Linked DNA regions of Homo sapiens: region 2 is linked to region 1. The links come from fine-mapping of genetic effects on gene expression. Tissue or cell type: whole blood. Region 1 holds a variant in brackets; the other region holds the start of a gene. All regions are shown on one strand. Distances are between the middles of the regions.

Region 1 (8,000 bases):
ACGTTTAAAACTTTGTGGATGAGTCAATTCAACAAGTACATGATGTGGTATGCTATGAAATTTTTGCAGCTTCCCAAGAATTAAAATGGATGGCTTGAACGTAGGTGAAAGAGAGGTGAATAGAGGGGCGGGTTAGAGGAAGAAAAAGCCGGCAGTGGGAAGTTTCAAGAGTGGCCAACGTTGACCGGTCGTCAGTAAGCTCTCAGACTCACAGGAGAGGATCAGCCACCGAGTTTCTGTCTCTTCAATGGAGCCTGGCTGCAATGTAGCCATTTCTTTGATCAGAACAAGAGTAAGGTTTGGGAGGAGAAGAGAATTATTACAAGTCGTCCCCACTTACCTGTGGGGGATACATTCCAAGACCCCCAGTGGATGCCTGAAACCCAGAGAGTAGCAAACCCTATATATGCCGTATTTTTTCCTATGTATACATACCTGTGATAAACTTTAGCATGCAAATTAGGCACAGTAAGAGATTCACCACAATAACTAAAAATAAAATAGCACAATTATGACAGTATGCCAGCATCACTCCTCTTGTGATTTGGAGCTGTATGTAATAGCCGAGATGGCTGCTAAGTGACTAATAGGTGCTGTATTCAGCATGGATATACTGGGTGAAGGAATGATTCGTGACCTGGTCAGGACAGAATTGGGTGGTGCAAGATTTTATCACACTACTCAGAATGGCGCATAATTTAAAATTTACTAATTGTCTGTTTCTGGAATTTTCCATGTAATATTTTTGGACCACAGTCAACTACAGGTGGCTAAAACCTCAGAAAGTGAACTGCTGATAAGGAGGGGGTGCTGTATTGCTCACTCCTTCGCTTTGGAAGAAGGATTAGGTAATTGTAGTACAATCTTCCACCCAGTTCAGGAGTCCTTTGTATTACATCTCTGACGTTTCATTATCTTGCAGAAGCTTGGCTACTTTCAGTGATGGGGAGCTTGCTACTTTGTTGGTCCACAGGACAGACTAGTTCAGTTTTATAGCTTTAGTTGTGAGAAACTCCTTTCTTAGACTGAACTGAAACAGTGAAATAGACTTCATTGTAACTTCTTGTTGATCTTAGTTCTGCCAGCTGGATGGGTGTAAGCCTAATCCCTTTTCCTTACTACAGCTTCTGAAATTGAAAATGGATATTATGTTCCTAAGTGTTCCCTTTTCTAGGCTAACCATTCTTAGTTTCTTCATCTTTATAATGCAATTTCCAGACCCTTTATCATCCTTGCTCTTGATAGCTGTTTGTCAGCATCCCTCTTAAAATGTGGTTCCCAGGAGTGGACATGCTGTGTCAACATATACACTGAGACAGTTGACCTCTTTGTTCTGGGCCGAGCTCATTAACTTAGGGACTGGGGGTCCAGAGTGTCTGTCAAGTCCCTGAAATTAACTGTAAATTTTTGTATGTCTAGACATATTTATGGGAGGAAAACTTATTGATTTTTCTAGATTTTCTAAGGAGTCTGTGACTCTTCAAAACTTAAGGGCCACCGATTTTAGACACTGTTCTTCCATTACCTTGGATTTGCTGAGATTTTTGATTGTAGACATTGTTCTTCCATTACCTTGGATTTGCTGAGATTTTTTATTTTAGACACTATTCTTCCATTACCTTGGATTTGCTGAGATTTTTGGCAGCCGTATTACATGGTTGGCTTCTACTGAGTTGGCAGTCACCTGAAACCCCCAGGTCAAGAGTCGCAAACAGATGTCCGCAGAGCTGGGAAAGTAACCTAAGCGGCGTAAGCAGGCTGGTGTGTGTCCACATGCATCCACCAGGTCCTAAGGGGATAGTCACAAGTGAATTCTAATCAGCTGTTGTCACGTCTGAACGCAGACCTGGAATTGCCAGATCTATCAGTTTTTCAAGAGCAGCCGGAAATCCGGATTTTCATGTAACTCTCACAATTTTTAACTATTGGCTTAGTGTTTTTCACAAACACTGCAAAGGGCAAACAAAACACATCTGTGGGCCAGTACTGTCCCAGGTCTTTCTTCATATGACTTTCATTTAAACTTTCTCCACCTCTGTTTGTGCAAGAGAGTCTTTGAAATTGTCAGACCGTGTGTGTCTCAGCTTTCGTTTCATCCCACTAGTTCTGCTCGATTGTTTATCCCATCAAGATCTTTGGGAGCCTTGATGACCTCCCCACTTTATCATTAGCAGATTTGCCAGACATGCCTTCTGTGTCTTCATTCAAGTTGTAGATGAAAAGGCAGAATGGAGTGGATTCAGAGCCGTGTGACGTGCCGTCAGAGGCTTCCTGTTCTTCCTCCTCACTTCAGCGCAAAGTGCCAGACCCAAAAAACAGGATTTCTACCTGTCTGTGTGTGTCGTCCGGGGCTGTTTCTTCATCTTCCCATGTCTTGATTTTCACCAAAAAAGGAGGCTGTTAATACTTGCCTTCTTCACTTTTACATAGAGATATCATAAAGATTATGAACTAAAGCAGCAAAGTACATTGCCTTCCAAGGAGAAAGTGTTCCTTGCTTTTCTTCCTCAAAATTAGCATATTATGCAATTCAAGCATTAGAACGAAAATAGGCCGGGCTTGGTAGCTTACGCCTGTAATCCCAACACTTTGGGAGGCGGAGGTGGGCGGATCGCCTGAGATCAGGAGTTTAAGACCAGCCTGGCCAACATGGGGAAACCTGGGCTTTACTAAAAATACAAAAATTAGCCAGATGCAGTGGTGCGTGCCTGTAGTCCCAGCTACTCACGAGGCTGAGGCTGGAGAATCACTTGAACCTAGGAAGTGGAGGTTGCAGTGAGCTGAGATGGTGCCACTGCACTCCAGCCTTGGTGACAGAGTGAGACTCCATCTCAAAAAAAAAAAAAAAAAAAAAAAAAAATTAGTCCAGCATGGTGGCACAAACCTATAGTCTTGGCTACTCAGGAGTTTGAGGTAGGAGGATTGCGTGAGCCCAGGGGTTTGAGGTTACAGCAGTCTATGATGGCACCTCTACACTGCAGCCTGGGGACCCTGTCTCAAGTGAAAAGAACAAAAATAACTGCTCTCCAAGACTGACTTCCCAGCATGGCATTGATCTTCATTATGTGGGATTTTGAATTTGTCATTGTCAGCTCACTAGAAGGAGACTTTATATTCTTATCCTCCCTCACTTTAAATTGATCCTTTCTCTCATCCTCTCTTGGGAGGAAAATGAAGCCCATTGATTGATAAAAATTGAAGAAAGTAATTGGTATTAGTATTAAAGGGACCACAAATAGTTTGGAAAAAAATGGCAATTGCTACTTGCTTCTTCCTACTAAAACATACCACAGCTAAAGCGACTGAGCTTTTAGAGTATGGCCTCGAAGTTTCCCATTAGTGGCCAAGATTGGCTGGACATTTTTTGTTTCTTTTCTGTTATTATTTTTTGCGTTGTACTTTTCAGCATGTCTGCAAATAACACTAAACTTCAGGAATTGCTGAGGTTTGGACATGACCTGGGAGTGCCCTGAACACCGTGATCTGTGGGGCAGCCCTGGAGTCGGGTTGTTAGATCAGCCTTTTGTAGGGGCAGAGTTTTGATTCGGGCTCACAGTCATTTCCCAACCAGGATTTCTTACGTCTAGTGCAGAGGTCAAGGTTGGCTTGCCTTTGTCAAGTTGAATCCGGTGACTGTTCATTTTGCCTGCTTCTAGAGTGCTACTGGTTGTAGTTGAGGCGGGGCGGGCGACTGTTCATTTTGCCTGCTTCTAGAGTGCTACTGGTTGTAGTTGAGGCGGGGACTCATAAAATGTCCGTTAACTGTTTAACAATGTAGTGCAACTGGGTTTGGCCTCACTACCATTCTTCATCCTGTTTATTGCACACAAGCCTTGTGTATTAGTCCGTTCTCACACTGCTATGAAGAAATACCTTAGACGGGGTAATTTATAAAGGAAAGAGGTTTAATTGACTCACATTTCTGCAGGGCTGGGGATGCCTCAGGAAACTTACAATCATGGTGGAAAGGGAAGCAAACCCATCCTTCTTCACAAGGTGGCAGGAGAGAGGAAGAATGAGAGCTGAGCGAAGGGGGAAGCCTCTTACAAAACCATCAGATCTTGTGAGAACTTACTATCACGTGAATAGAATGGGAGAAACCACCCCGTGGTTCAGTGACTTCCCACCAGGTCCCTCCTATGACATGTAGGGATTTGGGTGGGGACACAGCCAAATCATATCACCTTGATAGCGCTTTTTTGGCAGGGAGACATGTCTGCGGCATATTTGGAACACTTTGCCACGTATCCTCTAAAATCCCTCATTTTTAGAAAAGCTATAAGGAATCCAAATAGCTATCTTCTCTCCTCTATGTACAGTGAAGGACTGGGCATTTTATTTCAATTCTCTAAGGATTGGTGTAGTTAGATATCTTCAGTGATGTAACATTGGATGGCATCTTGGTAAAGTGAAAAAAACTTGAGCTTTGAATTTAAATTTTGTCTCTGCTGTTATCTGTGTGACCTTGGACAAGATATTTAACTTT[C/T]CATCTGTGACATGGAGATAATAATACGTACCTCAGGGTTAGGGGGGATTAGAATTAATATACTTTATTTTATTTATCCACTTATTTATTTATTTGTTTTTGAGACAGGGTCTTACTTTGTTGCCCAGGCTAGAGTGGAGTGGTGCAATCACAGCTCGCTGCGCCCTCAACCTCGTGGGCTCAAGTGATCCTCTCACTTCAGCGTCCCGAGTAGCTGGGACCACAGGCACATGCCACCATGCGCATCTTTTTTTTTTTTTTTTTGAGACTGAGTCTTGCTCTCTCTCCAGGCTGGAGTGCATTGGTGCGATCTTGGCTCACTGCAGCTTCTGCCTCCTGGGTTCAAGCAATTCCCCTGCCTCAGCCTCCTGAGTAGCTGGGACTACAGGCATGTGCCACCACGCCCGGCTAATTTTCTGTATTTTAGTGGAGATGGGGTTTCCCCATGTTGGCCAGGATGGTCTCGATCTTCTGACCTCATGATCTGCGTGCCTCAGCCTCCCAAAGTGCTGGGATTACAGGTATGAGCCACCGCACCTGGCTTTTTTTTTTTGAGCTGGAGTCTTGCTGTGTCACCCAGGCTGGAGTGCCGTGTTACGATCTCTGCTCACTGCAACCTCCGTCTCCTGGGTTCAAGTGATTCTCCCTGCCTCAGCCTCCCAAGTAGCTGAGATTACAGGCGACCACCACCACGCCTGGCTAGTTTTTATATTTTTGGTAGAGACAGGGTTTCACCATGTTGGCCAGGCTGGTCTTGAACTTCTGATCTCAGGTGATCTGCCCACCTTGGCCTCTCAAAGTGCTGGGATTACAGGCGTGAGCCACTGCGCCCAGCTAATGTAATTTTTAAGTATTGTGTAGATGAGGTCTCGCTATGTTGCCCAGGCTAGTCTCAAACTCCTGGCCTCAAGCAATCCTTCTGCCTCAGCCTCCTAAAGTGCTGGGATTACAGGCATGAGCCACCACATCTGGCCTAGAATAAATGTATTTTAAAACACCTTTTTTGCACAATGTTGGGCTCACTCATGTTTAGTAAATGGCAGGAACACCAGTGCTGCTGATACACAGTCCACTGGAATTTCAGTTTTCCTAGTTCCGTGCATCCAGGTATTTGTCGAGTTCCTGTGGCTTTTCCGTCAGCTCCATCAGCTCCTCTCCAGCCCCACTGCTGTGCTTTAAAGCAACTCCAGGTTTACTTGTTCTGAATTATCCCAGGCCCCTTACTGCCTTCAGCGTGCTGTTCTCTGTGAATAAAAATGGCGGCACAGCTTACCTATGGTCCAGAATATCTGCTGTGGCAACAGTGGTGGTCAAAGGTTCATTTCTCTTGTCCTGTCTTCAAGACCTCCATTAGATGTTTGCCTGGCGTGACATGCAATATCACCCTATAGTTAAAATAAACATTCCACTTGACAACAGAATTTATTATTTGTATTGTTTTTGAAATTTGAGACTGCAGATAGATTTTTTTTCATTTCTAGTTTTTATAACTTCCAAATTCTTCTTTTTTTTCTTCTTAGAGACAGGGTCTCACTCTGTCATTCAGGCTGGAATGTAATGGCAGGATCGTAGCTCACTCTAGCCTTGAACTCCTGGGCTCACGTGATCCTTCCACCTCAGCCTCCCAAGTAGCTAGGACTACAGGTGCACACCACTATGCCTGACTGTTTTAAAACACTTTTTGTAGAGATGGAATCTCACTGTGTTGCCCAGGCTGGTTTAGAACTCCTGGCTTCAGGTGATCCTCCCACCTACGCTTCCCAGAGTGCTGGAATTACAGGCATGAGCCACTGCAACCAGCCAATTCTCTTCTCTCTCTGTTTTTTTTTTTAGAGACAGGGTCTCGCTCCAGGGTCATCCAGGCTGGAGTGTGGCGTGCATAGCTCACTGTCTCAAACTCCTGGCCTCAAACGATCCTCCCACCTCAGACTTCCAAGTAGGTAGGACTACAAGTGCATGTCACCATGTCTGGCTAATTTTTTAATTTAAAAAGTTTTTTTTTGTAGTGATGGGGTGTTCCTTTATTGCTCTGGCTGGTCTTGGACTCCTTACCTCAAGCGATCTTCCTGCCTCAGCCTCCTGAGTGGCTGGAATTACAGGTGCAAGCCACCACACCTGTTTCCAGATTTTTCTCAATCATACACATGCTTCTTAACTTGCAATGAAGAATAAGTTCTTATTCTGATAAACCCATCGTAAGTTGAAAATATCCTAAGTTGAAAATTTATTAATACATGTAATTTACTGAACATCATAGCTTAGCCTACCGTGCCTTAAATTTATTTGCTCAGAACACTTACATTAGGCTACAGTCAGGCAAATCATCTAACACCGAGCCTATTTTATACTAAAGTGTTGAATAGCTCATGTGATCTGTTGAATACTGTACAGAAAGTGAAAAACAGAGTGGTTGTATGGGTACCCAAAGTATGGTTTCTACAGAATGTTTCTCACCTTTGCACCATCGTGTAGTAAGAAAATTCTGTGTTGAACCATCCCAAGTTGAGGGCCGTTGGTATATTATTTTAGAAGAAAAGTATTTTTGGATGCCGTATTGTAATGAACAGAAGGAACTGACACCTGGGTCACTGCAGGGAGCCTTTGCTGCCTGTTCAACACCGGTTTCCAGACCCAGGCTCTTGGAACTGCAGTCTTCCCTTCCTGGCTCTCAGACTCAAAGCTGCCCGCTTTCTCCACTCCAGCTGTTTGTGTTGAGTACATCTGTCTTTTTGTTTTCTCTGTCTCTCATTGCATCTCTAAAGCAAGGCAGTTTTTACGCCAAGATCATCAGGACTTTTACAGGTATTGGGATCTGTTTTCCTTTATTAGTCTTTTTTTTTCCTTTTTTTGGAAACAGAATCTAGCTCTTGTTGCCCAGGCTGGAGTGCAGTGGCGCGATCTCGGCCCACGGCAACCTCCGCCTCCTAGGTTCAAGTGATTCTCCTGCCTCAATCTCTCGAGTCGCTGGGATTACAGGCGTGAGCCACCATGCCTGGCTAATTTTTTGTATTCTTTAGTAGGGACGGGGTTTAATTATGTTGGCCAGGCTGGTCTCGAACTCCTGACCTCGGTGATTCACTCGCCTCGGCCTCCCAAAATGCTGGGATTACAGGTGTGAGCCACCGCGCCCGGCCAACTTGTTGATTTAAGAAAAGAAAAAAAGGAAATCTCTGGGACTTTGATTGGGATTGCGTTGAGTCTATAGATCAATTGAAGGAGAATTGACATCTTTACAATATTAAATCTTCCAATCTATGAACATGGAATATTTCTTCATATATTTAGGTCTTTAGTTTCTCTCAACAGTGTGTTTTAGTTTTTAGTATATAGATCTTGCTCATAGTTTGCTAGATTTATACTAAATATTTTGTGGTTTTTGGTATGATTATAAATGGTATCTCTTAAAATTTAAATTTCCAGTTGTCTCTTGCTAGTTGTGGAAATGTAATTGATTTTTATTTATTGACCTTATATTGTGCAGCTTTGCTGAACTCACTTATTAGTTTCAGGAATT
Region 2 (8,000 bases), 64 kb before region 1:
TTGCTTTGCTAAGAATCCTTTGTTCGAGTGTTCTATTTCCTTAGGATTTTGAGCATTATTCCTAACAAGTATTTAAAAGGGAAAGAGCAGGAAGGGAGGGAAGAGGGAAAGGAAAAATACAGGAGGGTAGGTAGGGAGATAAGTGGTTACATTCTTATTAGGCTTTGATCAGCGCTCACCAAATCTACATGTCACAGTGAAAGGAGGGGGTAGAGGAACAGTCAGTTTTGCATTCAGCTCAGTAAATCTACATTTAGCACTCACCAAATCTACATGTTACAGTGAAAGGAGCAGGCAGAGGAACAGTCAGTTTTGCATTCAGCTCAGTAAATCTACATTTAGTGCTCACCAAATCTACATGTTACAGTGAAAGGAGCGGGCAGAGGAACAGTTACGCATTCAGCTCAGTAAGTCTACATTTAGCACTCACCAAATCTACATGTTACAGTGAAAGGAGCAGGCAGAGGAACAGTCAGTTTTGCATTCAGCTCAGTAAATCTACATTTAGCGCTCACCAACTCTACATGTTACAGTGAAAGGAGCGGGCAGAGGAACACTCAGTTATGCATTCAGCTCAGTAAATCTACATTTAGTGCTCACCAAATCTACATGTTACAGTGAAAGGAGCGGGCAGACGAACAGTCAGTTATGCATTCAGCTCAGTAAATCTACATTTAGCGCTCACCAAATCTACATGTTACAGTGAAAGGAGCGGGCAGAGGAACAGTTATGCATTCAGCTCAGTAAATCTACATTTACTGCTCACCAAATCTATATGTTACAGTGAAAGCAGCAGGCAGAGGAACAGTTATGCATTCAGCTCAGTACATCTATGTTTTGTCTCGGCTGGTGAGGGATGGTTTCTGGTGTTGTCTTTGTCCCTTACCTATGAAGATAAGCTGTTAATTTATATTGTCAGGTGAGGGAGACCACCTGGGGAGATATGTGGCCTTCTGTCTTGTAGCTTATCTGTTTAGGAACAAAAGGAAGTTTTTTGCATATTCCATGACTCAATTTCCAAGCTTAACTTTTCCTTTTCGCTTAGTGAATTTGGTCCCAAGATTTTATTTTCCTTTCACAGTATACCCCATGCCCATCAATCCCATTCCCCCTGCATCCTATAGGTAACCTCTTCTTAAGCAAATACAAATAGATAAATCCTTATTTTCTGTTTTTTTTTTTAAAACTTTATTTTACTGTTACTTTCTGCTGTCCTAATTATGGCACATTTTTACTTTCTAGGTTCTGTGATTTACAGAGTGGTCTGGCTATGTGGACAGCTTCTAAATTGTCACCACATTTTGGAGCAAGATGTATTATTTTTACAATTAATTTACATTTAACATGAATCATGATCCTAAGTGCATCAGAATGTCTTCATAACATTCGCCAAAGAAGAGAGGGCAGCACTGCTGTTCTACAGTGTGGCTCTCACCTGGTCCACAGTTACCAGAAATAGTTCTTTCGTTGCTGTGATGTCCTGGGTGGGCTTCATTCTTTAGTAATGTACTTTGTCTACAGCAACTTCCTGCAACTATGTGAACAGATCTTGAAGACACACAGTGAGGTTTGGTTTCCTTTGTCCTCTTAAGTCTTTATGGTTGTTGCTTCTATTGTTTATTGGTCCCAGTGAGAACTGCAGCTGACCTGATGTCATGATCTGTGAAGATAGTTTCTATTAAAGAAGAAGTACCAGGAAATCCCATATGCCACCGTAGACCTGCCTTTCTGGATACCATTTACTACTCCATACTCCAGCCGCCATGCACAATGGTTGTGTATGAGGCTCCTGTGATCATTAACAGGAGTAGAAGCTGGGCTCAGACACTCTGGCACTTGCATAGGTCAAGGGGTGTGTTGTGCTCTTGCAACAAATCCCACATAGACATCCATATGCATATTGTCCCACCGTCCCCTAAGCAGAAACCAGGGTTAAGTACAGAATAGTCCCGGGAACATTTTGGTTGCCCGGCCTTAGGTGAGCCTTTCTGGGGCTGGGATTTTGACACCATCTGCTCCATTGTTTCTAAACTGCTGTGTTCTGGCGCATCAATTGTTTCATCACATTATCATCACGGAAAGCTTGGTCTCCCTCAAAACATGAACCGGGTAGGCCCTGTGTTCCAGTGGGGGCTTTTGGACTTGACTTTAGTGTTTAGGAGGACAGAGTCCCTCTCCCCTCTGTGGTGCTGGGGTATTAGTAAATCAGCCTTGAAGAGATAAGGGGCTGGGGCCTCAACCTCCCAAGAGGCTGTCACTGGAGAATGGTCTCCTGCCCTCAGATCTTGGGCATTTCCACAGCACACTGTCCCCCTCGTCCTTCCAAATACCTACATACGCTCTTGTAATAGGAGAGCTGGGAACTCCACCCAAAACCATACAAAAAGTTAGTCTGTGTATTTGGACGCCTCCCCAGCACTCAGTCACCGAGTTTCTCCTTTCCAACAGCAGTCACTCTCATGCAGTTTAAGTGATTTATTGATGTCTCGGCTAAGCTTGCGACAGTTTCAGGACATTTCAGCCATCAAGGTCTAAGAAGCCCTTTCCATTCCCGAGGAGCCCTCAGCCAGCCTCCTTCTTCCTCATCTCCTCACTCTGGCCGCGTAGCCCCTCATGGCGTCCATCTTGGACGCCCCTTTGTTCGCGCTCCACGCCCCCCACTTCCTTCTTCGTCAGCTCCTCCACTTTGGCCGCGTAGCCCCTCATGGCGTCCATCTTGGACGCCCCTTTGTTCGCGCTCCACGCCCCCCACTTCCTTCTTCGTCAGCTCCTCCACTTTGGCCGCGTAGCCCCTCATGGCGTCCATCTTGGACGCCCCTTTGTTCGCGCTCCACGCCCCCCACTTCCTTCTTCGTCAGCTCCTCCACTTTGGCCGCGTAGCCCCTCATGGCGTCCATCTTGCACGCCCCTTTGTTCGCGCTCCACGCCCCCCACTTCCTTCTTCGTCAGCTCCTCCACTTTGGCCGCGTAGCCCCTCATGGCGTCCATCTTGGACGCCCCTTTTTTCGCGCTCCAAGCCTCCCACTTGGCCCTGGCTCTCACGTCTGAGGCCGGAGGGCCGGGGATGTCGCAGTCGCCCTGGGTGGCCTGTTTGTACAAGCCGTAGACCAGCAGCTTCTCCTGATCGCTCACGGGACCCTTCAGCTGCTTGAGGGCCGCGCAGCTCGAACTCCACTTGGCACATGGGGTGGTGGAGGCGGTCCCTGGTGCTAGAAGCTGGAGGTGGAGAGTTGGAGTGGCTGTTACTACTCGATCTCAGGGGGAGGAGACAGGCACGCGATGTTTGTGTTTTGTCAAGCACAGATTGCAAGCTCGGGGTCCAGCGTAAACCCCACCATGTTTGGGCTCACACGGCGCATTTTCTGGGGAGGACCAGCCGTCAAAAAGCGTCTAGGATCCGGAACGCTGCTGTCTGGAGGGGGCGGCGCGGCAGGAGCGCGTTGAGGGACTGTATGTGGCGCGAGCTGGGCGGGTGGGAGTGGAAGCCTCGCGTGGTGCGGCCGCGCTGGGTGGTGGGCGTCCCGGGGGAGGCGCTCGGTGGGGGTGAACTGTGTGCGGGGCACGCCCGGGGTTACCGGGTGAGGGTGAATGCGGGGCCGGGGAATCATGAGCCCGACCCGCTGGGACCCCGGAAGAGGGGCCGGGCAGGGGACGGTGCGGAGGGGTCTAGTGAGCGACGTCCGGGTACCTGAGGGCTGGTGGGAGGGCTCTGCCGGAAGGCGGCGCTGTGCGCTTGGCGCGCTCGTTCGTGAGGACTGCGCGTGCGCGGCGGAGGCTGTGGGCGGGGCCGGGCGGAGGTTGTGAGCAGGCCTAAGCGCGGCCGCCGTGGCTCCTGCGTCTCCCATCGTGCCGTGCGTCCCGCGCCGCGTTCGAGTTCTCGGAGGGGAGGGGGCGTTAGCCCCGCGCAGCCGCCGGCGTCGCCGCCATGGACCTAGGTGGGTGCCGCGGCTCCCCGGCCCCGGGCTGCGTCCAGCAATGCGCCACCAGAGCGGTGCTGCCCCGTCGCGTCTCCTCCTGTCGCGCACGCTCGCGCGGGCCCGGACCGAAACGTCCCCCGCGTCGGGGCGGGTCTAGGGGTCCCGGGGTGGCCTTGGCGGGGGGTGGTCCGGGTCCCGCCGCGCGTTGGGCCGCGTCTTGCCGCCTCCGGCCCCCTGCGCTTGAAAACACGGAGCAGACGTGAAGTTAGAGCCCTTGGAAGCGCCCGGGGCTCGCGCACGTGCTTTGGGAAACGGGCTCCCTCCGAGCACCCCTGGGCGCCCCGACGGCCTCATTTCCTGAACGGCAGCTGCGTTCTTGAGCAAGTGTCTTAACGCTCCAAGTGTCTTACGCTCATGACGTTTCCTCATCGACAGAGCGGGGAGAATGGAAGTGTGTCTCCCCACTGAGTTTTGGGCGACTTTGCATTGAGATCGCCGAGGTACAGTGTCCCTTGTGGGGTTGCGCGGGTCACACCCGCGGTGGGGGCGGCTGCGCTCCTGAGGTATCACTTTGTGAACCTGCGTGCGTCCGGATTCAGAATCTTACAGGCAAGGTCTGGGAGGGAGCCCATAGGAACTAGATGCTCCCTGCTAAATCTTGGCACACGCTGCTAAGACCAGGAGGCTGTTCTGGGAGAGCTGGGGGTGAGGCACCCCGAGATGTGTCAGCAGTAGTAGGCTGGGGGGAAATGGTCTGGTCCCCGCCCCCAGACAGCTTTTCAGGAGCGGAATGGCAGAGCTCTAAGGGCTTGGAGCCCCTCAGCCGTAATTGCTTCCCAGCCCCACCACATTCAGGCTGGGACACCCTCAGCAAATCGTTTCTGCGCCTCAGTGTCCTTATCTCTAGAGCAGGAATACTAGTCCTCAAAAGGTGATTGTGAATAGAAGAGATCTTACCTGTGTACCACCTAGCACAGTGTCTGGCATGGAGTAGGTGCTTAATAAACCTAAGAAGCGGGCTGTGGCAAGCACTAGTTAACCATCCATGATAGAGTACCGGAGTATTTTCCAGCTAGTAACCGCCCTGGGACTTACTACTTCAAACTGTGCGTACTTAATGCGCCTGGAAGGCAGGTGTTTAGGGCCAAACATCTGCTCAACTAAGCCAATAATGCAATAAAATTAAATTTACAGCGTCAGGAGGGACTATATTTTGGGACCCTGGGAGAGCCTCCTGAGCCAGAAAGAAGGGCGGTAACCCCCAGGGAGGTCCCCTTCGCAGCGTAACCCTCCCTGGGAGTCGGTCTCAGCCACTGTGAGATGAGATGGATTGCCTCCACAAGTGGGTTACATAGTGCTGAGCCCTTGGCCTGCTGCCGCTCCCATAAATGGTGGGAGGGGTAAGATGGTCCTTAGTCTCCTGGAGTCAGTGTTTTCTCTGCTGGTGTCTGGCCTGTGAAAATGGGGAATATGAGCTCTTGGGGGCATGACAGACTGAGGAAGGAGTAGCATCTCTCACTCCTGGGAAAGGGGAGATGACTCAGGAATGAGGAATAGGGAGCAGTGTTTGCACCCTCGTTTTAGTTTCTGGGCCAAAGGAAACATACCTGATAAAGACCTACATCCTTTGATGTTTCTGAGCTGGGGGAGGCAAAGAATAGTGACAAGATTCTGGTCTTGCCAACCATGAAAAGGTTTGGGGAAACCAACATTTACTGAGCACCTAATTAGACTCTGTAACTGGATTCTTACTGTAGCTCTATCTCATTTATCCATCATAGCGTCCCGGGGAGATGGGGTCAGGAGATAGCAGTGCCAACCCACTAGCAAGGGCTTGACTGGTATATATCACATGATCCCCAAAGGCATAACATGAAGTCTGTATTATCCCCACATATGCAGAAGGAAGGCTTGGAGAAGCAATCTGACCAAGATCACATCCCTTTTTTTTTTTCGGAGATGGAGGGGGAGTCTCACTGTGTTACCCCAGCTAGTCTTGAACTCCTGGCCTCAGGGATCCACCTGCCTCAGCCCCCCAAGTAGCTGGGATTACAAGTGCTAGCCACTGAACCTGGCCAGAATCACATCATTTTTAAATGGCTGAACTAGGATTTAAACCCATGTCTGATTAAACATCCCAAGATGTTTTCCATGGTAAGTCTGTGTCAATCGTTAGTTCCCTGAAGGAAGGCTTAATCTAGCACAGTATTTTCTGTATCTACTCCCTGGTTTCTCCCACAGAGCTAGGGCCATGAGTACCTTGTTTTTGACTGGAAGGAGCTGTGGGGTGGACCGTTTCCCTGAAAGCTAGAAGAATGTTTGAAGCCTGTTCCCAAGGCAAGTTTATAAAGAGTGAAGGCAGGGCTTGTCTGATTCCTTCTGTGCCCATTGCTCTGTGGCTATGTGATTGCTCTGTGCCCATTACCCTGTGGCTGTGTGACTGCTGCTGTGCCCGTTACCCTGTGGCTGCGTGATTGCTGCTGTGCCCATTACCCTGTGGCTGTGTGATTGCTCTGTGCCCATTATCCTGTGGCCGTGTGATCGCTCTGTGCCCATTACCCTGTAGCCGTGTGATTGCTGCTGTGCCCATTACCTTGTGGCTGTGTGATTGCTGCTGTGCCCATTATCCTGTGGCTGTGTGATTGCTCTGTGCCCATTATCCTGTGGCTGTGTGATTGCTCTGTGCCCATTATCCTGTAGCCGTGTGATTGCTTCTGTGCCCATTACCCTGTGGCTGTGTGATTGCTGCTGTGCCCATTATCCTGTGGCCGTGTGATTGCTGCTGTGCCCATTACCCTGTGGCCGTGTGATTGCTCTGTGCCCATTACCCTGTGGCCGTGTGACTGCTGCTGTGCCCATTACCCTGTGGCCGTGTGATTGCTGCTGTGCCCATTACCCTGTGGCCGTGTGATTGCTCTGTGCCCATTATCCTGTGGCCGTGTGATTGCTCTGTGCCCATTACCCTGTGGCCGTGTGATTGCTCTGTGCCCATTACCCTGTGGCCGTGTGATTGCTCTGTGCCCATTATCCTGTGGCCGTGTGATTGCTCTGTGCCCATTATCCTGTGGCCGTGTGATTGCTCTGTGCCCATTATCCTGTGGCCGTGTGATTGCTCTGTGCCCATTACCCTGTGGCCGTGTGATTGCTGCTGTGCCCATTACCCTGTGGCCGTGTGATTGCTCTGTGCCCATTATCCTGTGGCCGTGTGATTGCTCTGTGCCCATTATCCTGTGGCTGTGTGATTGCTCTGTGCCCATTATCCTGTAGCCGTGTGATTGCTTCTGTGCCCATTACCCTGTGGCTGTGTGATTGCTGCTGTGCCCATTATCCTGTGGCTGTGTGATTGCTGCTGTGCCCATTACCCTGTGGCTGTGTGATTGCTCTGTGCCCATTACCCTGTGGCTGTGTGATTGCTCTGTGCCCATTATCCTGTGGCCGTGTGATTGCTGCTGTGCCTGTTACCCTGTGGCTGTGTGATTGCTCTGTGCCCATTACCCTGTGGCTATGCTCCCTTCATCTGTCATGAGAAGCTCAGCTGTCATGTCCTGTGGTACATGCTCAGTGGCCCCTGTAGTTTGTACTGTCCTCCTATTTCTAAACCCCTCTCCCCACATCCTCTGCTGGCCCAGCCTTTGCTGGAGGGTCTCGCCTCAGCAGCCCAGCTTTTTCTTTTCACACACTTTTCCTGAAGGATCTCATTCACCGTCTTGGTTCCGGTGATCCCCTCTGGGCAGATACCTCTCAGAATCACATTTCCCAGCTTACTTCCCTCCTGAACTTCCACCTGGCATTTCCGTTGCTGGAGGACATCTGTACCTTGATGGCCAAAGCTGAACTCATCTTTCCTCACACCTGCTCTGATTCTCCTCCATTCCCTGTATGTGATGTCACCTGGTGGCCTCCCAGTTCCCAGGCTGGAGAGCTCGGAAGCCATTCTGGATTCCTCGGCCAAGTCCTTCTGACTCCAGCTGTGCAGTGGCTCTTGTAGTCATCCCTTCTCCCCGTCCGCTGATGTCCTTTAAAACCCTTGTCATCTCAAACCATGACAGCCTACTAACAGCAGTGGCCATCTGGAAACATTTT

What was found. PIP is the estimated chance that this variant, and not a neighbour inherited with it, causes the effect.
Region 2: it holds the start of GEMIN4, and the variant in region 1 is fine-mapped to the expression of GEMIN4 in whole blood (TOPMed, PIP above 0.99).

What each region holds. Positions count from the first base shown.
Region 1 is chr17:684,325-692,324 of GRCh38, reverse strand. All of the region lies in intron 4 of VPS53 (VPS53 subunit of GARP complex), which reads left to right. Among named protein-coding and RNA genes, the nearest start is that of VPS53, 27 kb to the left of the region's middle. The variant C/T (reference allele first, on the strand shown) is at 4,487.
Region 2 is chr17:748,068-756,067 of GRCh38, reverse strand. GEMIN4 (gem nuclear organelle associated protein 4) reads left to right here and starts at 3,804. Exons shown (of 2, transcript NM_015721.3): 1 at 3,804-3,935. The coding sequence starts at 3,926. It also overlaps the pseudogene DBIL5P. RefSeq lists silencers at 3,425-3,684, 3,865-4,284 and an enhancer at 4,465-4,524.